Linked DNA regions of Homo sapiens: region 2 is linked to region 1. The links come from fine-mapping of genetic effects on gene expression. A gene starts in region 1. The other region holds a variant in brackets. All regions are shown on one strand. Distances are between the middles of the regions.

Region 1 (9,928 bases):
GTTTGTTCTCTATTTGTCCAATCTGTTCTTTATTGTTTTGTTCCTCTTTTTCATCTTTCTTTTGGATGGCATACACTTAGTATTCCACTTTATCTCAACTCTTGGCCTATTATTTCTTTGGCATTAAATTTCTTTGGCATTTCTGTATTTTTTTCCCCATGTCAACAAAATGCTTCTTTCATTCCTCACAATATATCTTCAAATAATAATTCTTCATGTAAAATGTGAGAGCCTTAAAGTAATGTGCTATCATGTATAACTTCAGTCATTTGTGTTATTGCTGCCACACATTTTATTTCTACAAATATTATAAACCCCACAATACATCGGTTTTGCATTTAGATAAGTCAATTATATTCTTAAATGAGAAAATATACTTTACTATTTATCCACAATAGTAAAAGTCTTTTAGATTTTGGAAGCAACACATACCACATTTCAGTGTGTGACTTTGACTCATTTACAGAATTACCTGTAGATTTCAAGTGAGAAGAACAAAAGAAAGTGAGTTCAGACTGCAGGTTAAGCTAATCCACCACTTGGGGCTTATGATCCAGCAGACCCATAGATTGTCAAACTGTCCATGGCAAATAAGGATGCTCTACAGAGCATCTGGCAAGCAACAATAGGACAAAAAAAAAACACTACACAGATGTGTAAGATTTTGAAATAAATCTATCCTCTCTTCTGTAGTTAATGATTCTTCTTTTGAACAGGTTTGGGACCAGGCCTTGGTAAAGAATGAGCACCTAACTATGGGATGTCAGGTGATTGCACAGCCTGAGATTTCGATCATGGGCTGGGTGTTGGATACTCACCTAGCTATAAGGTTGGGTGCTTTATTTATTTATTTTATTAATATTATTATTATTATTTTTGAGATGGAGTTTCACTCTTTTGCCCAGGCCGGAGTGCAGTGGTGCAATCTTGGCTCTCTGCAACCTCTGCCTTCTGGTTTCAAGCGATTTTCCTGCCTCAGACTCCCAAGTAGCTGGAATTACAGGCACCTGCCATCACGCCCTGCTAATTTTTGTATTTTTAGTTTCACCATGTTGGCCAGGCTGGTCTCGAACTCCTGATCTTGTGATCTGCCCGCCTCGGCCTCCCAAAGTGCTGGAATTACAGGCATGAGCCACTGTACCCAGCCTGACATTGGACGCTTTATTATCAAACAGAAATGGTACGTAAGAGATCAAGCTCAGGCTTAACATGAGGGTCTAACTGAGTTCCTGTCCTTAAGTCCTAGGCAGTATTTTGTGTTTTCCTTTACGTCCTTTCTTAGACTCATCTGTAGCTTGGGATTACCTGGGACTTACACAGTGTCCATAAAGTCAGGAAGTATAAACATATATAATGTCACAAAGACATCTTTGATCTGTTAAAAAAACAAACAGAAAAAAACTCTGTGTCTGTGTGTGTGTCTACAATTTGTAAACACTCTGCAGTTCAAGCCATGAGCCATAACTTAAAATCTACTGGAGAGGTTTGTTGAGATATTTTTGGTCTTTGCTTTTCTGATTAAAAAAAAAAAAAGGCAGACACACCAGAGATGGCTCTATGTTCCTTCACTTGTTCCCATCTCTCATCTTTGATTGTAGAAATTGTTTAGAGTGGCAAATCATCAAACACGGAATGCTAATAAAGCTCCATAAACTTACGTCTGCAGTTTTGAAATCCAAAAAGCTCCAGAAAAATAATTTTTAAAAGCTCACTTGGAGGTAAAACCTGAACTAAACTAACATAAGACGGTTTAGTGTTTCTCTTACTGGGAGTAATAAAAAGTTTCACTCAGAAAAAATGAGTTTAGTTATCAGGTGTTTCCCAGTCCCTTGCTGGGCTCTATATAATACATGGCACATGCACCTAATTTCATTTCTAAAATCAGGAAAATGTGTGAATTTAAAACACATCTGGCACTAAGGGTTTCAGATAAGAGACTGTGTGACAATTGTTCTTAGTTCTGCCATTTTCCCTGGAAAACAATCTTTAAAGTTCACAGAGCACATCAGCAAGAATTTTTAAAAGGAGCCTAATTGTGATATGGTTTTGTTGAAATACAAGGCAGGTGTAAAAGGAAAATAAATCTCAGGACTCCAAAATTACTAAGCCAAAGGTAAAAGTCAAGCTGGGAACTGCATCAGGCAAACCTGCCTCCCAGTTTATCCCTAAATAAGATATTTACAAAGATAAAGCTACATACTTCCCTCATAATTTGCCCTCTAGGGATTCCTTGTGGGCTGCAAGATCTTTACCCTAAAACGGTTCTGTTGAATTTTACCCTGACAACGTAAATTGATAGTTTATCTTCACAGGTGCGAGACAAAGGAGCGAACCCCAAGTCATCCCTCTGCTCACCTGAAACAAATGCATATCTGATTGCTTCCTCTGAGGTAAAAATGCAGATTGACAAAGCTAGATGAAGGCGTAACTATTCCTCTACTCCCCTGATAAGGTTTGGATCTATGTTCCCACCGAAATCTGATGTCGAATGGTAATCCCCATTATTGAAGGTGGGGTCTGGTGGGAGTTGATCGGATCTTGGGGGTGAATCCTTCATGAATGGTTTAGCATCATCCTCTTGGTGACAGTGACTGAGGGAGTTATTGCGAGATCTGGTTGTTTAAAGTGTGTAGCCCTGGGCTGGGCATGATGGCTCACTCCTGTAATCCCAGCAATTTGGGAAGCTGAGGCGGGTGAATCACCTGAGGTCGGGAGTTCAAGACCAGCCTGGCCAACATGGCGAAACCCCATGTCTACTAAAAATACAAAAATTAGCCGGACGTGGTGGCGGGCACCTGTAATCCCAGCTACTCCAGAGGCTGAGGCAGGAGAATTGCTTGAACCCGGGAGACGGAGGCTGCAATGAGTCAATAACATTTTGCCATTGCACTCCAGCCTGGGTAACACAGCGAGATTAATAAATAAGTTTGCTTATGAGATGTTATTTTATTGTACTTTTTTACATGTTTATTATATATTATATACTTCTAAATGTATTAGGTAAATATATTTTGTATGCACATAAATTTATCCATTGTTTCTGTTATATAAATTTAATATTTATTACTTATCGATTACCTATTGTATATAAAGCACATGATGCTACACTGGTATTTGGAATTCATTACCCTAACTATACTGTAATTAAAATAATTATCCTAACTAGTACCAAAGGCTTCCCCTTAGCAATCACTCGAAGTGTGCCAGCACCTCCACTCACTTCACGTCAAGCGATTCCCATCATTGTTTCACTGATGGAGAAACCAAGGCCCAGGGCACTTGGGGCAAGGCGTTCAGGGGGCTTTCGGTCCGGAAGCAGCGTCGGGGCGGGAATTCGAACCCTGGGTTCCCACACTGGCCCGTGGCAGGGCCCCCAAGCCTTTTCCCAAACTGATCACAGAAAGTGACGACCCGTTCGCCCGGCGGACCGGGGGCGTCGGGCAGGTCCTGGTCCAAGTGAGTGCCCGCCCCTGCCCTGGGCTGGCAGAGTTCTTCCCCCAGCTGCAGGTAGACGTGGGAACCCGGCAGGGTACGGAGCTGCTGGCGCGGCACGCTGATTAGAAGCGGCGACTGCCCGTCAAGCATTCGCGCCTCTCCCCTCCCTTGACTTTCTTGGCAGGGTTAAGGGATAAGAGAAAGTGGAGTTGCCTCAGTTCTGGGAGAGCCCGTTTGTGGGTCCGGCACAGGTATCCATCGGGACTGACGCTGCAAAAGTCCTCTTGTGAAACAAGGAATAGGCTCGAGTCTTCGATTGGGTCGAGGGAGACGTCAATCAATGGATGGGCGTGTGCAAACGCAACACAACGCACAGTATTGGTTAGGATTTGGCGGGGGGAGTAGACAGCGGGGAAATGAGGCGGCTCATCTCGATTGGCCCAGAAAGAAGACGGTCGCGCCCTATGTACTCCGGGATTGGCTAGAGCGAGCCGCGTCCCCCCTCACGCCAACCACTGGTAAGCGAAGTGGGCCTCGCTCTCCCGGGTTAGCAGCCGTAGCCAGATCCGTTGAAAGGAGTGCAGAGAGGTCTCATTGCGCTCCCGAACAGACCTGACGTAGATCCGAAGTGGCCCGCGCCATCTCAACTATGAGGGGACACCCGTAGGCGGCGGGAGAGGGACGCCGCGAGGAGCCAATAAAGCTCCGCAACCGGAAGTGTCTTCTGGGAGGGGTCGTACCCGGAAGTGTGGCACCTCCCGGGCCGCACCCGGAAGTGTGATGCCACCGCCGCTACGGGGAAGTAATGGTATCCGGCCAATTGAGATTCGGAGTTAAAACAGGTGTTTGTATATCTCTATTTCCTGAGGCCCAGTAGAGTCTCCTCTTTTCGGAAAGTGTTGGAGGGGGGACGTATTTGGGCATGATTTTGGATGTCTCGTCCTATTGAAATCCGTGGGGAAATGAGCAGTAGGAGTGTGTCCAAGGGGGCCTGACTCTATAAAGGCTTTTCAGAAGTTTCTTTCACCGCCCGTCACCCTCGATTCCCCTCCCACTCAGGGATGTGCAGATGGAGGTCGGAGGAGACACTGCTGCCCCGGCCCCCGGGGGCGCGGAGGACTTGGAGGACACGCAGTTCCCCAGTGAGGAAGCTAGAGAAGGTGGAGGGGTTCACGCGGTCCCGCCGGATCCCGAAGACGAGGGCCTGGAGGAAACAGGTATGACTCCACTTAGTGGGGTCTTAAAAGGAATCCTTAGGGGTTGTCATTGTTGGACGGGGGAAGGGTCAGTGGGTGACCAGTAGGGAGTCTTGGGACTTAAGAGAAGTGGCTTAAACCATCGCCGGGTCAGGAGGAGGTCACTGTGGACACATGGTGTAGTTTACATCATTGAGGAAGTCATTGGCTGTCAACGGATGTTCACTGGGGGTTTGGTGTGAGTTTAGGTCATTGAGGAATCAAAAAGGGGGCTGTTAGGACCAAAGAGGGTCACTGAGGATTTAGAGTGTTTAGATCAAAGAATGCGCTGAAGAAAGTCAATAGACTCAACAGAGGAGGACTGTTGAGAAGTTAGTGTTTTTGAGGAGTAGGGTGTTATTTATTAAATAATAGAAGTGGGAAGGGGAATCAGTGGAGTTCGATGGGCACTCAGAGTATTTACATCATTGAAGTCACTTGTAGACTGTTGGGGAAGTCTTTAAGGGACCAAATGTTAGTGGATGTGTAAAGTTGTTCATTTGAGATTTAATGGAAGTCACTGAGAAGTCTGTGCCATTGATCACTTTGGAATTAGTGGATGTAAATGGAGTCATTGGGAAGGATCAGTGGACCTCACTGAGAATAAATGTGGATGGGGAGGTTGAGGACTTGGGAATTAATAGCAGGTAAGAGCAGTTATTAGGAGGGAGTAAAGATATTTGGGGACATGGGAGTGTCAGTGAATGTCAGTGACAGAATATGCAATTATTGGGATTTTATGGGAAAATTATTGAGACATAGTTGCACATGGATAATAATGGTTGTCATTGGGGGATGAATGGAAATCAATGGGAATAAATGGATGTGTCAGTAGGGGCTGTTGAAGTTGTGGGTTTTAGTGAATGTTAATGATGGTCATGGGTAGGGGCAATGGAAGTCATTAAAGTCTTGTGTGTTAGTGGATATTATGATGGTTACTGTAGGGAGGGGAGTGGATACCAATGAGATTGAAGGTGGTCAGGGGAGTGACTGAAGGTCTCTGAAGTGCTGGGTGTTAGTGGAGGTTAATGATGGTCATTGTTGGGGGTAGGGGGGAGTAGACATGGAGTAGAATAACTTGTGGATCAGGGCAGTCATGGAGGGTCATTGAAAAACCAGGTGTTAATGATTGTTAATGTGGGGTCATTGGGGTGTTTGTGAACCACAGTGGGAGTGAATAGTGGATTAGGGGAGTCCTAAATATCTGGGTGTTAGTGGATATTAACGACAGTCATTGGGAGAAATAGTGGACATTACCAAGAATATAAATGGGCAACCAGGAGAGTTAGTAGGGGTCATCAGGTATCAGTGGGCATCACTGATAGGGTAGTAGCGGGGGTTGGGGCATTCAAACAGTTAAGATATTAATAGATGTTAATGGTGGCCATTGGGTGAGCAGATATCAGGAGAAAAAATAGCGGTCAGAGGAGTTAATGGGGGATCATTGAAGATGAATAATCGTCATCCAGAGTCAATGGGGTGCTTTGAAGACTTTGGAATAACAGTGATTGAAAGGGAAGTAATTGGTCTGTAGGAACATAGCAAGTCCAGTGGAATAACAATGAGAATATGTTGGTTTATTAGGGTTTTAGGAAGTTCATTGGAACCTAAATGTTAGTGGAGATCATTGCGGGGTCCTAGGGCAGTCATCGGGTCATTGAGGGGCATAGGAGACACTTGGAGTTCTGCGTCAGCATGCAGGGGTCATGGAGGGGCTAGTAGATATTTGGTGGGTCCTTGGGGATGTGGGATTAGTTAGGAGTTCACATGCAGATGACCCACCAGGGGCTCCCTTTCAGGATCCAAGGACAAGGACCAGCCACCCAGCCCATCACCACCGCCCCAGTCAGAGGCCCTGTCAAGCACCTCTCGGCTCTGGAGTCCTGCAGCCCCTGAGAATAGTCCCACATGTAGCCCTGAGAGTAGCTCTGGAGGCCAGGGCGGGGACCCCAGTGATGAGGAGTGGCGCAGCCAGCGGAAGCATGTGTTTGTGCTGAGTGAGGCTGGCAAGCCCATCTACTCGCGGTATGGTAGTGTGGAGGCGCTGTCGGCTACCATGGGTGTAATGACCGCCCTGGTGTCCTTTGTGCAGAGTGCGGGAGATGCCATCCGTGCCATCTACGCTGGTGAGCAAACAGGTGGGAGGCAGAATGGGGGACAGTGACTGGGAATATGGCTGGCACGGGTAGGTCTGTCTGCCTCAGGCACTATCCAGCCAGCCAGGGTTGGGTCCATGTGTGTGGATGGTCAGCCAGAGCTCTGTCAGTGGCGGGAGGTGGGGGGGTTCATCTCTGTCTGGCCTGCTGGTTTCTTAGTGATTGACTTGCTGGGATCTCAGTGACTAGCTGGATACTTCTGTGTCACCTGAGAGGATAACTGTGGGGGCTGTGTGGTTGAGCTGTGTCTTTCTGGCTCTGTGTCAGCCCTTGTACCATCTCTACCCGCCTGCCCGTGGTCTTTGCTGTGTATCTAACCTACTTGTTCCTTTGTCCATCCCATCATGTCTCTGCAAATGTCCAGATTCCTCCAGCTTGTCCTTACCCCAGTCCAGGTGCCCACAGAGTGAGCATGTGGACTCGGGCCTGGTGTGTGTATGGTAGGAGAGGGCAGAAGAGCCCCACTGTCTCCCTCTGGTCATTCCTGATCCAGCTGTACCCCCCCTTCTTACCCCTTCCTTCCCTAGAGGACCACAAGCTGGTGTTCCTACAACAGGGCCCACTGTTGCTCGTGGCCATGTCACGGACTTCTCAGTCAGCAGCCCAGCTGCGGGGGGAGCTGCTAGCTGTGCACGCACAGATCGTGAGCACACTTACACGTGCAAGTGTCGCCCGCATCTTCGCACACAAGCAGAACTATGACCTCCGCCGCCTGCTGGCTGGTTCAGAGCGCACACTGGACCGACTTCTGGACAGTATGGAGCAGGACCCAGGAGCCCTGCTCCTGGGTGCCGTGCGCTGTGTGCCCCTTGCCCGCCCGCTGCGAGACGCACTAGGTGCGCTCCTCCGACGTTGCACAGCGCCTGGCCTGGCGCTGTCAGTGCTGGCAGTAGGCGGTCGACTTATAACAGCAGCCCAGGAGCGAAATGTGCTGGCCGAGTGCCGGCTGGACCCAGCTGACCTGCAGTTGCTGCTCGACTGGGTGGGTGCACCAGCCTTTGCGGCGGGTGAGGCTTGGGCACCTGTGTGCCTGCCCCGCTTCAACCCTGATGGTTTTTTCTACGCCTACGTGGCCCGCCTGGATGCTATGCCTGTCTGCCTGCTGCTGCTTGGCACCCAACGTGAAGCCTTCCATGCCATGGCCGCCTGCCGGCGCCTGGTTGAAGATGGGATGCATGCCCTTGGTGCCATGCGTGCCCTTGGGGAGGCTGCCAGCTTCTCTAATGCCTCATCAGCCAGTGCTCCTGCCTACAGCGTGCAGGCTGTCGGGGCGCCGGGCCTCCGGCACTTCCTGTATAAGCCGCTGGACATCCCTGACCACCACCGCCAACTGCCCCAGTTTACCAGGTAGGCCCTGACCCTAAGGCAACTGGCTGGGTGGGAAGGCCTGTCAAACCAGGAAGTTCAGCATCTCAGGGATGTGACTCAGGAGAGATAACCAGCCATGCTTAAGAAAGAGGGAAGAGAACAAGTCTCTGTCTGATGATGGAGCATCAGCCACAGACCTAAAGGAATCCCCCTCTTCTGGTGGACAGCAGGGCCCTAGTACTCAGGGAATCTCCTAGTTTGATGAGGGAAGGTCAGCCTCCAACCCCTGAGAATCCTCAAGTCTCATGGGAGAGGCTCAGCTCCCTAACTTCATTGAAATCTCTAGACTGAGGGAGGAAATGGGCCAGCCAAGAAGGCCCTGGACTAACCTTGTCCTCCACCTCCCTCCATCATGGCAGCCCTGAGCTAGAGGCCCCCTACAGCAGAGAGGAGGAGCGGCAGCGGCTGTCGGACCTGTACCACCGCCTGCATGCTCGTCTCCACAGCACCTCCCGACCCCTGCGCCTCATTTACCACGTGGCTGAGAAGGAGACACTACTGGCCTGGGTAAGTTGGGCAGGGCTCTGAGTGAATTAATTCCCCACTTCAAGCCTCCTTTCCCTATATTGTATCCCCTCCAGCCACAGTGCCTCCACCAAACACAGCAGGCCTCTGGCTGGGCTGTGCCTTGCCTGCAACACTGTCCCTGCCTTTACACACACATCTTTGAAGCCCCTGACAACTAATGACCGTGTCTCTAATCCGACATTAGCCTCACCCTCCTGTGTGCTTCTCCCAGATTAGCAACCAGGACAGTGTCTTTGACTTTCCAGAGGCCCCATTAACTACCACTGCTGTGCCTGCCGATTCCCCAGTAGCCCAATCCATGTGTTTGGAGGCACCCCATTCATCACCAGCTCATTGTGACTCCATGAGTCCCCAGCACTCCTCAGACTACAGGCGTGGTCCCTTGCTGTGCCCTCCACCTGGGGTATCCTTCCCTTTGGTCTCCTCTGGGCTCCAGCCCTCACTTCCTATGGGTTTGCTAAAGGTCAGCTACTAAGGGAGGCCAGTGAAGGAGGCCTCATCAGAAATGGCACCTGCCATGTAATGCATATTTATTAATTTATTGCGTGACTGCTGTGGATCAGGTATTGTCCTAGGCTAAGAATTTTGTTTTTAAATTTTTTTAACTTTCATTTTCAAATAACTTTAGACTTAGAAGCTGCAAAAACAATATAAAGAGTTTTTATATTTATATTTATAAAGAGTTATAAAGGGCGTGGTGAAAACCACGCCTGGTCAGATGGTGGTTTTCCTAACTCCATCATTCTTTCTACATTTATTGGCTGGGATTTTACTATAAAGAGTAACATGGGGCCGGACGTGATGGCTCACGCCTGTAATCCCAGCACTTTGGGAGGCTGAGGCAGGCTGATCACTTGAGGTCAGGAGTTCGAGACCAGCCTGGCAAACATGGCAAAACCCCGTCTCTACTAAAAATACAAAAATTAGCTGGGCGTGGTGGTGCGCACCTGTAGTCCCAGCTATTCATAAGGCTGAGGCAGGAGAATCGCTTGAACCTGGGAGGTGGAGGTTGCCGTGAGCCAAGATCGCGCCACTGCACTCCAGCCTGGGCGACAGAGTAAGACTCCATTTCAAAAACAAAAAGGAATAACTTTTCCTTCTCCTATTTATTGAATTTTTAATTTTCTATCAATATTGTCTCATGGATTTTTCTTTAATTCAGTGAGCTAAAATCCTTCTCTAGCATTTATTTTGGTGTTCAGATTG
Region 2 (9,928 bases), 23 kb after region 1:
TCTGATATTAAATGGTCGTGTTAAGATTAATTTACTCATTTAATTATTCGTTACTAATTTCTTTATCAAATATATTCCCTCCATTGGTCTTAGCCTCAGTCTTTTTCTGTTGGCTATCCAGCTCCTTTGATATCCATTCACTTGCTTATTTGCCTCCTTATTTTAAGCCCCAGTCATCCATTTGCCCACCCATTCATCTATCCACCCATCTAGCCATTCACCTACTCACTCATTCATCCATTCATCCATCTATCCAACCATGTCATCCAGCCAGATGGCTGTTTTATCTCCGGCCTTCCACCTAACAATCTTCCATCCATCCAATCATGCATTCATCCTCTCTTTATTCTTTCCATCATATATTCACTTAGCCAAACATCCATCCAGACATCTACCCTTCCTTTTAGCAATCCTTTCTTTCTCTGTCCAGCCACTATTCCTCTACTCATCATTTCTCCAATCAGCTATCATTTCTCCAGCCAGCAACTCACACATCCAGTCAACTGTCTATCCAACCTGTATCCATCCATCTCTTCATCCTCCCGAGTAGCTGAGATTACAGGCATGTGCCACCATGCCCGGCTAATTTTGTGTTTTTAGTAGAGATGGGGTTTCTCCATGTTGGTCAGGCTGGTCTCGAACTCTCGACCTTAGGTGATCCTGCCCACCTTGGCCTCCCAAAGTGCTGGGATTACAGGCGTGAGCTACCACACCCGACATCTTCTGAACTTTTACCTAGCACACTCCTGTTACCAGAGGTCTCTCATCCTGGTGCACCATGATTTTAATTGCATGGGGAAACCTGATGTTAGCTAATGTGTGATACTCAACCACACTACTCACACTGTATGATGAGCATTTATGCTCATTTATGTACCTAATCCTCACAATGATAATTATAGGAGTTAAGGCTAATGTCACCCTCCCATCACTACCACCATTTTACATATTAGGAAACTGAGACCCAGAGAGGTTAAGTAACTTGGCCAGGGTCTCGGTGAAGTAACAGATTAGGGTTCAAGCCAGGATGTTATAGAATCTGTGGTGCCAAATTACCACACGCCTCACAAAGCTTTCTTGGGAAGGCAGAGTTCATTCCATGGGGGACAGGATGGACAGGGTAATGTTCTCAACAGAGGCCCATGAAGGTTCTCATTCAACAGGAGAAACAAGAAAGGTGAATGCTGTGAACAGACATCCCAACTCCCACTCCTGCTGGAGTGAATGATGGGTCATTCAGAGAATATGACTGAGGGTTGTCTTTCCCTTCCCAGGAAGCACATGCTGCAAGAGTGCATGGAACAAATTTTTGCCCATAATTCTCAGGTTTCAGAGTCTCAAACAGAGGAATCTGGGGTAACTCCCAAGCCTGGGGCCTGGCAGGCCACTGTGTAGAAAGTGGGAACAGGGCTTGCATCAGGGAGAGTTTGTTGGAAGAGGTGCTACGGGAACCAAAGCTTAGAGGATAAAACCCATGAAGGGGCTCCCAGCAGAGGGAGCATGGGCAGGATCTGAAGGCCTGTGCATGAGGAGCCCCCAACAGGGTGTCAGGCCTAGCATGTGTTCTCTTATTCCTGGGTGTCGGCCTCCAGGTTGGATGTCAGAGGACAGCTGGAGGATCTGATGGGCCAGCACAAGGACCTCTGGGAATTCCACGTGAGCCATTATCATTGCCTGCAACCAAAGCCACTCCTCCCTGGCTTTAGTGTCGCACTGACTGGCCCAGAGTCCACCCCTGCCCAGGCTCAATGCCGCGGGATAGTCCTTGATTCCTTGCTTCCGCTTGCCCACCTATTCAGTCCCTCAGCTTTTATCTAAAATCAACTTACGCCTCACCATGCCCCACTGCCACACCCAGCATCACCTGCCCAGACGGGTGCAGTACCATTGTGATCCTGCTTTCCCCCTGCTCATCTAGTGTATGTTCACCTTGCAGTGGCAAATGGCAGCCCAGGGAAAGCCATGGTCAGGTCATTCCTTCATTTAGCTAATGTCAGTGGTTGCACCGGTCAGCATTTGAGGCAGGGAGGGAGGGTAGCAGATCAAAGAGTCCACGTCTTTGCTGTCCCAAGCTGGTTGGGGACGGTGGAGGCACCAAGAAAGTTAGTGGCTAGATCGTGGAACTTCAGTGGGAAGGCCTCTAAGCAAGTGACATCTCAACGCAGAGGTGAAGGAAGTGAGGGAAGAAGCCGTGCAGGTATCGGTGCAGAAGGAAGGCCCTGGGGCTGGACGGTGCCTGAAACCGTTGAGGAGCCGCAGATTGGGGAATGGAGGATGAGGAGAGTGGGAAGAGTTCAAGTTTGAGAGGTGCCTGGAGACATGGAGAGCGTTTAGGGGGAGGTGGGTGGGTCTCCAGCCACAGCAGGAACTGCACATTGAGTTAATAAATAGTTGAATGAATGAATGACCTAATGTAGGTGAAGACTTCGCGAGAAGCACAAAAGGGGAGGGGCGGGCCGTGTAGCCAAGAGGACGGCCAAACGGGGAGGCCTCCTCTTTGTCCTCGCAGATGCTGGAGCAGCGACTGGCCCGGGAGATCCGTGCCCTGGAGAGAAGCAAGGAGCAGCTGCTCTCGGAGAGTGAGCCTCCCGCGCCAGGTGGGCGGGGGGAGGGGGATGTGCCCGGGCCTCGGCCCTGCCCCTGACGCCCGCCCACCGACAGGGAGGCTGGTGCGCGCCAAGCTGCGGGAGGTGGAGCGGCGGCTGCACTCGCCGCCTGAGGTCGAGGGCGCCATGGCGGTGAATGACGGGTGAGAGGGGAAGGGAGGAGTGGGCGAGGAGGGCAGGGGCAGGGCGGAGGGGAACCCGCCCAGGTCCCCCGCTCCGCCCCCGACTGCCGCTTCCCCGGCCTGTGCCTCCCTCGGCGTCGTCGGGTCTCCGCGTCTCGGTGGCTTCCTCCTCGTCCCCTGGACTCTCGCTCTCTTCCTCCTGTCTCCTCGGCCCCTTCTCCGCAGGCTGAAGGCGGAGCTGGAGATATTCGGGGAGCAGGTCCGGAGCGCCCCCGAGGTCGGGGCCGGCGAGGGAGAGGTAGGGAGCCCGAGGAAGGGAGGCGGGGCGGGCAGGGACCGAGTCAGGAGAGAGCGGGCGGGGGTCCTGGGAGCGGCCCCCGAGAGTGGGGTCTGTGGGGAGCAGGGCGGCCCCGGGGACAGAGGAAGCCGCGGTGGAGGCCTAGGGCAGACGCGGGCGGACGCGAGGAGCGTAGGAACCTGGTCCGCAGCCTCACCCAGCCCCCGGCAGGCCGGACCTGAGCTCCCCCGCGCTCGCGACGAGGAGGATCCCGAGCCGCCGGTGGCTGCCCCTGACGCCCTCTAGGCCAGCAGGACCCGCCCGTTCCCGACCTTCCCTCGAGACCCGCCAAGAAATAAAGGCGATGATTTCCGACCATGCTCGCGTTCTCCGCGGAGTCTGTGCTACACCGTGGAGCGGGGCGGGGCGTGCTGGGATCTCGAGGCGGGGCCTCTGCCGGACCCCTCCCACCAGTCGAGCCCCGGGCGCCGTACAGAGGCTGGGTAAATGCTCCTGAACTCAGAGAGAGTAAGTGGGTGTCAGTATCCCCCGCCCCACGGCCTCATCTCGAGTTCCCAAACCATCTATGTTGTCAACAGGGGCCGGAGGGCAGGTGTTAACCCATTCCGGTCCTCGGGGCCTGTGCGTCTCCGGTGGTCTCAGGAAACCCAGAGTCTCTGCAAGACCCGCAGACTCGCGCTGGCTCTGGGACATGCCCGCCCATCTGAGCTCCCCTCACAAATTGGGTTCTAGCCAAGGCTGCCTCTCCACCCGTCTCAAACATTCCAAAACACGTGTCCCCTCGGGGCCTTCGCCCTACTGGTCCTTCTCTGGGGTCACATCCCCCAGGCAACCTCAGATCTGTTAAATGTGTCCGCCACTCTGGAGGCCGGCATTTGGGACCCAAATCCAAAGGCACCCAGCAGCAGGCTGCGGCCATTGACTGAGCATGTACTGACTAAGCAGGCATTTGCCGATTGCCTGCTGGGTACCAGGCACTGTTCTAAGCACTGGATTTTAAACAGCGCGGTCAGCGACGGCCTCACCTAGGAAGTGGTATCTGAGCGGAGAAGCGAGGTAGAGAAGCGAGGGGGTGAGCCCTGTGGGTGTCTGGGGAAAGGTGGGCCTGGCAGAAGACATGCCTCATGCCAAGGCGGGAGGTGAGGCTGCACTTCGCTGTGTTTGAGGAGACGTCTGGAGAAGGCCGGCGTGGTAGAGTGGAATGAGGTAGAGTGGGATGGGAGACGACACTGGAGAGTTGCCAAGGACCAGTCAAGTTGGACACTATCTAATGTGTGTAGAAGAGGACCTGGCACACAGTCAGTATTCAGTGAATGCCAGCTCTCACATATTGTTGGGATGATTCACTATTCCCAGTCCCTAGAGAATGGGAACTGAGATGTGTGACTCACTTAGATCAGAGGCTTCTGTCCATTAAGTGATCAGTAAGTGGTTCATATGATTTATTATTATTATTCCCAGGCTACAGATGAGGAACACTAAGGTGTGTATATCTCTCAGAACAGAGATTTTTATAACATAAATGCTCAATAAATGGTATCTATCATTTATTATTCTCACTGCTATTCTTGCTGTTATTCCCAATTTAGCGATGAGGAAAATTGAGATAGTGAATCTGTACAGTAAGCCCTCAATAAACGTTGGGTCTCACGTTTGTTGCCATTATTATCCCAAGTCCACAGATGAGGCCCAGGGAGCTTTAGTCCCCGAGTCACCACTCGCATCCGGGCAGAGCTGACTCCAGGCCCAGGCTGTGGTCCCCTGCCCCACTGACACCACCTACTTGCTAAGGCCAGTCTCCAGGAATCTCTAAGGAACTTCAGTATCCTCTTTGTCATCCTCTCTGTGTCACACAAATGGGGTCAGCCTGGATATTCTGCCGATTTACCACTGGGCACCTAGGATTCGAGTCCTGGTTTCCCTGTTCACCAGCTGGATGACCTCAGGCAAATTGCTTAATGTCTCTAAAACGCAGTGACCAGCTGGGTGCTGTGGCTCACGCCTGTAATCCCAGCACTCTGGGAGGCTGAGGCGGGTGGATCACGAGGTCAGGAGTTCAAGACCAGCCTTGCCAAGATGGTGACACCCCTTGGTTTGGTGGTGGCAGGTGTCTGGAATCCTAGCTACTCAGGAGGCTGTGGCAGAGAATTGCTTGAACCCGGAAGGCGGAGGTTGCAGTGAGCCAAGATGGCGCCACTACACTCCAGCCTGGGCGACAGAGCGAGACTTTGGCTTTTGATTTGCCCTGTGTTCTCCTGACTCAACTGACCTTCCTGGCAGGGCTACTTCTCCTTTCATTGAAATAATTGACAGCTGCCTGGGAAGTCTTCACTCACTTCCTGTAACAGCTTTTCTCAGGGCTTGCATTCAATTACCATAATTCTCAAGCTTCTTGGCTTGTAGTTCAGGTTCAAATGTGAATGAGCCTGGGGGAGCTCAGTGTTGCCAAAAGGCGGAAGGACATTCTTTTTATTATTATTATTATTTTTATTTATTTATTTATTTATTTTTGAGACGGAGTCTCGCTCTGTCGCCCAGGCT[G/A]GAGTGCAGTGGCGCCATCTCGGCTCACTGCAAGCTCCGGCTCCCAGGTTCACGCCATTGTCCTGCCTCAGCCTCCAGAGTAGCTGGGACTACAGGTGCCCGCTACCACACCCGGCTAATGTTTTTCTGTATTTTTAGTAGAGACGGGGTTTTACCGTGTTATCCAGGATGGTCTCGATCTCCTGCCCTCGTGATCCGCCCGCCTCGGCCTCCCAGAATGCTGGGATTACAGGCGTGAGCAACCGCACCCGGCCAGGACATTCTTGAAAAAAGTAAGCCAGAAAGAAACCCACTGAAAAACAGAGGAGTCAGAGGAGGGGCCCGAAGAGATGCAAACATAGCACATCCTGAGTAGCAAGCTAGACAAGGCATGGAAGAGAGAGTGGCCAAAGTGACTGCAGTAGAATCTCCCGGAGGATAATAATATTACTACCTAATAGAGCACACTAGTTAGCAGAACAGAACCCAGGGCCAGACTGTGTTTGTTAGAATCCCAGCTCTGCTGCATACTAGCTGTGTAACTTCAGGTTACACAGTTAGGTTACTTAAATTCCCTTTTTTTTTTTTTTTTTGAGATGGAGTTTCATTCTTGTTGCCTAGGCTGGAGTGCAATGGCGAGATCACGGCTCACTGCAACCTCCACCTCCTGAGTTCAAGGGATTCTCCTGCCTCACCCTCCCGAGTCACTGGGATTACAGGCGCCCACCTCCACACCCAGCTAATTTTCGTATTTTTAGTAGTGACGGGGTTTCACCATGTTGGCCAGGCTGGTCTCAAACTCCTGACCTCAAGTGATCCACCCGCCTTGGCCTCCCAAAGTGCTGGGATTACAGGCGTGAGCCACCCTGACTGGCCGTTCATAAAGTTTTGAGGACATGTAGCATGTTACGTTTCAGAGAATCAAAGGCATCCACCATTTCTTTTTTGATCTCTCAATTTTGTGTTCATTTAGATTTCAGACAGCAATCAAAACATCAAGTACAGGTGAATACAATCCCAGGCCACCTTTTCCTGGGAACCTGGATATTGAGCTCTTACTTTTCTCCATTCTAGGATCTTGTTAAGCAGTGATGCTAACCAGTGAGTAGAACAGTGAGAGGTCCGTGCATATTCTATTTGCTGATCTACCAGCTGTTTTAAGGGACTGGTCAGTGGCAGAATTAACATATTTGCCATACCTACAAAATTCACAAGTACCTAGACTTCATTTTCCATTTTCCTACAAAACTCAAACTCTGTTTTTGTGACCTATTACTCACCGTAATCCTACCCAGCATCTTTCTCATTGGAATCTTGAGTAACATTTACCCAAAGATTACATTAGTTCCATTCTTCTTCCTTTCATTATCAAGTCATTATTAGATGGAGATGATTTGAATAGCCTAGGTGCCTGTTTTTTGTCTTGTAGTCCTTCCTTGGTGTTAACTCTGAAATTAATTTATCTCTTTTTTTATTTTTATTTATTTATTTTTTGAGATGGACTCTCACTCTGTCGCCCAGGCTAGAGTGCAGTGGCACAATCTCGGCTCCCTGCAACCTCCACCTCCCGGGTTCAAGCGATTCTCCTGTCTCAGCCACCCAAGTAGCTGGGACTACAGGTGCCCACCAACACGCCCGGCTAATTTTTGTAGTTTTAGTAGACACAGGGTTTCACCATATTGGCCAGGCTGGTCTCAAACTCCTGACTTCAAATGATCCACCCACCTTGGCCTCCCAAAGTGCTGGGATTATAGGCGTGAGTCACCATGCCCTGCTAAAATTAATTGATTTCTTCCAAGTGTGTGCAGTCATGTTTTACTTCTGTGATCAGACCTATTTAAGAGTTATAAAGATTCCTTCCAATTGTATCTTATGAAAGCCAGTAGGCATTTAATGACCTTCTTTTCTGGAGTCATTGTCTTTATATTTTGTGCCTCATTTTTGGAAAGCCTGTTTTACTTTCCGTGTGTCTTCTTATTTCTAAAGTCTTATTAAACCTACATTATCTAAAATGCCCATTACCTATAAATTTCTCTTCCACTCTGAGATTAAATATCTTTCTCAGTGGTTACCTTTATATTTTTAGAACATTTTATTGTTTAAAAATCACAGTCAAAGCTTCAAAAAACATACACCCCAAAATATCCCAATTTCAGTATCCTACTACCCAGAGGAGAGCACATGGCTGTTCTTCCCCTTCTGGTGCCCACAGCACTAGCGAGGACCCTGCCCTGAAGAGACCACTTGCCCACCCTCCTGCCCACCATATGTTAAGTCACCGTTTCTAATACATTTATTTATTTATTTATTTATTTAGTAAGATGGAGTCTCGCTCTGTTGCCTAGGCTGGAGTACAGTGGTGCAGTCTCGGCGCACCGCAAGCCCTGCCTCCTGGGTTCAAGCAATTCTGTAGCAGCGTCCCGAGGAGCTGGGATTACAGGCACCCACCATCCCATCCAGCTAATTTTTGTATTTTTAATAGAGACGGGGTTTCACCATGTTGGCCAGGCTGGTCTCAAACTCCTGACCTCAGGTGATCCACCCACCTCAGCCTCCAAAAGTGCTGGGATTATAGGTGTGAGCCACTGCTCCCGGGCCCTAATGCTTTTATAATTTAGTTTATATTTGAACTATTTGGAATTTATTTTGTGTCTGTACATAATCTGGAGAGAATTTACTGAATAGCACATGTATCCCCCCAACTGCAATGCCATCCTCGCCATATACCAAATAATCATGTCTATTTTGGTCAATTTCTGAACTGTTTATTCTATTCCTTTATCTAGTTACCTATTTATACACAAATACCAAACTTTTTATTATTATACCCTTAAATAATATTATGAAACTCACTTGGTGAGACCTCCTCTATATTTTCCTACTGTTTCAGAATTTTTCAAGGGTAGTTTCTTTCCTATGCATACTCTAGAATCATATTGTCTATTTCCAAAAAAAAAAAAAAAACAAAAAAACAAAAAACCTGACTGGGCGCAGTGGCTCACAGCTGTAATCCCAGCACTTTGGTGGGCAGAGGCAGGCAGACTATGAGGTCAGGAAATCAAGACCATCCTGACTAACATGGTGAAACCCTGTCTCTACTAAAAATACAAAAAATTAGCTGGATGTGGTGGCACAAGCCTGTAGTCCCAGCTACTAGGGAGGCTGAGGCAGGAGAATCACTTGAACCCAGGAGGCGGAGGTTGCAGTGAGCAGAGATCACGCCACTGCACTCTAGCCTTGTGGCAGTGTGAGACTCTGTTTCAAAAAAAATTAAACAGCAGCAACAACAACAAAAAACCCCTATTATTATTTGATATTTGTATTGAATGAAATATATACATTAACATGCAGGAAATTAGTATCATTATATTGAGCCTTCTAAAGGAGAAAAGAGTCTGTTTTATCTGTTTAGTTTTTTTTTTTTTTTTTTTTGAGATAGCGTTTCACTCTTGTTGCCTAGGCTGGAGCGCAATGGTGTGATCTCAGTTGACCACAACCTCCGCCTCCCGGGTTCAAGCAATTCTCCTGCCTCAGCCTCCTGGGTAGCTGGGATTACAGGCATGCATCACCATGCCCAGCTAATTTTGTATTTTTAGAAGAGATAGGGTTTCTCCATGTTAGTCGGGCTGTTCTCCAACTCCCGACCTCAGGTGATCCGCCTGCCTTGGCCTCCCAAAGTGCGGGGATTACAGGCGTTAGTCACCGCACCTGGCCTAATTTTTATTTTATGTGTTCTTCTCCTCTGTATATCTCTTTGAATTCTATTTTACCTGATAATAATGTTGCTACAGTAATTTTTTTTTTTTGAGACTGAGTCTCACTCTGTTGCCCAGGTTGGAGTGCAGTGGCACTATCTCGGCTCACTGCAACCTCTGCCTCCTGGGTTCAAGCAATTCTCCTGCCTCAGCCTCCCGAATTGCTGGGATTACAGGCACCTGCCACCATGCCCAGCTAATTTTTTGTATTTTTAGTAGAGATGGGGTTTCACCATGTTGGCCAGGCTGGTCTTGAACTCCTGACCTCAGGTGATCCACCCACCTCAGCCTCCCAAAGTGCTGGAATTACAGGCGTGAGCCACCACGCCCGGACAATAAATGTATTTTTAGGAATATTTTTCTTCGTATGTTTCTTTACTTGACTGTCTATTTAGGTATCTAATTTTTCAGGGTTTGTTTAATAAAACTATACTGTCATTGATAATTCATAGCCTAATGAGGAAGGCAACCCAGGACAAAGGGTTCAAAGACACAGGTACATACTAGAGTGTGGGGAGGCATGCAGGCACATCCTAATGCAGGTAATGTTGACTACGTTGTTAAAGGCAAGTAGGAATTAGTCAAGCAAAGAAGAGAGCAAAAGAAACTCCCTGTTGAAGAAGGTCA

The links. PIP is the estimated chance that this variant, and not a neighbour inherited with it, causes the effect.
Region 2: its variant is fine-mapped to the expression of MON1B in coronary artery (GTEx, PIP 0.99). The same link has a PIP of 0.9 or more in anterior cingulate cortex and cerebral cortex.

What each region holds. Positions count from the first base shown.
Region 1 is chr16:77,186,982-77,196,909 of GRCh38, forward strand. MON1B (MON1 vesicular trafficking associated B) reads left to right here and starts at 4,209. Exons shown (of 6, transcript NM_014940.4): 1 at 4,209-4,277; 2 at 4,495-4,652; 3 at 6,470-6,796; 4 at 7,354-8,173; 5 at 8,554-8,701. The coding sequence starts at 4,505. It overlaps LOC124903725, which reads right to left and starts at 3,585. Exons shown (of 1, transcript XM_047435021.1): 1 at 2,927-3,585. The coding sequence starts at 3,585. The coding sequence ends at 3,241. RefSeq lists enhancers at 3,927-4,875, 4,001-4,290, 4,311-4,360.
Region 2 is chr16:77,209,621-77,219,548 of GRCh38, forward strand. SYCE1L (synaptonemal complex central element protein 1 like) reads left to right here. Exons shown (of 11, transcript NM_001129979.3): 7 at 1,593-1,656; 8 at 2,510-2,579; 9 at 2,662-2,749; 10 at 2,954-3,026; 11 at 3,237-3,595. The coding sequence ends at 3,311. LOC124903726 (a long non-coding RNA gene) reads right to left here and starts at 2,511. Exons shown (of 2, transcript XR_007065121.1): 1 at 2,409-2,511; 2 at 1,967-2,311. RefSeq lists silencers at 2,511-2,870, 2,931-3,260, 3,371-3,460, 3,491-3,540 and an enhancer at 2,618-3,591. The variant G/A (reference allele first, on the strand shown) is at 5,568.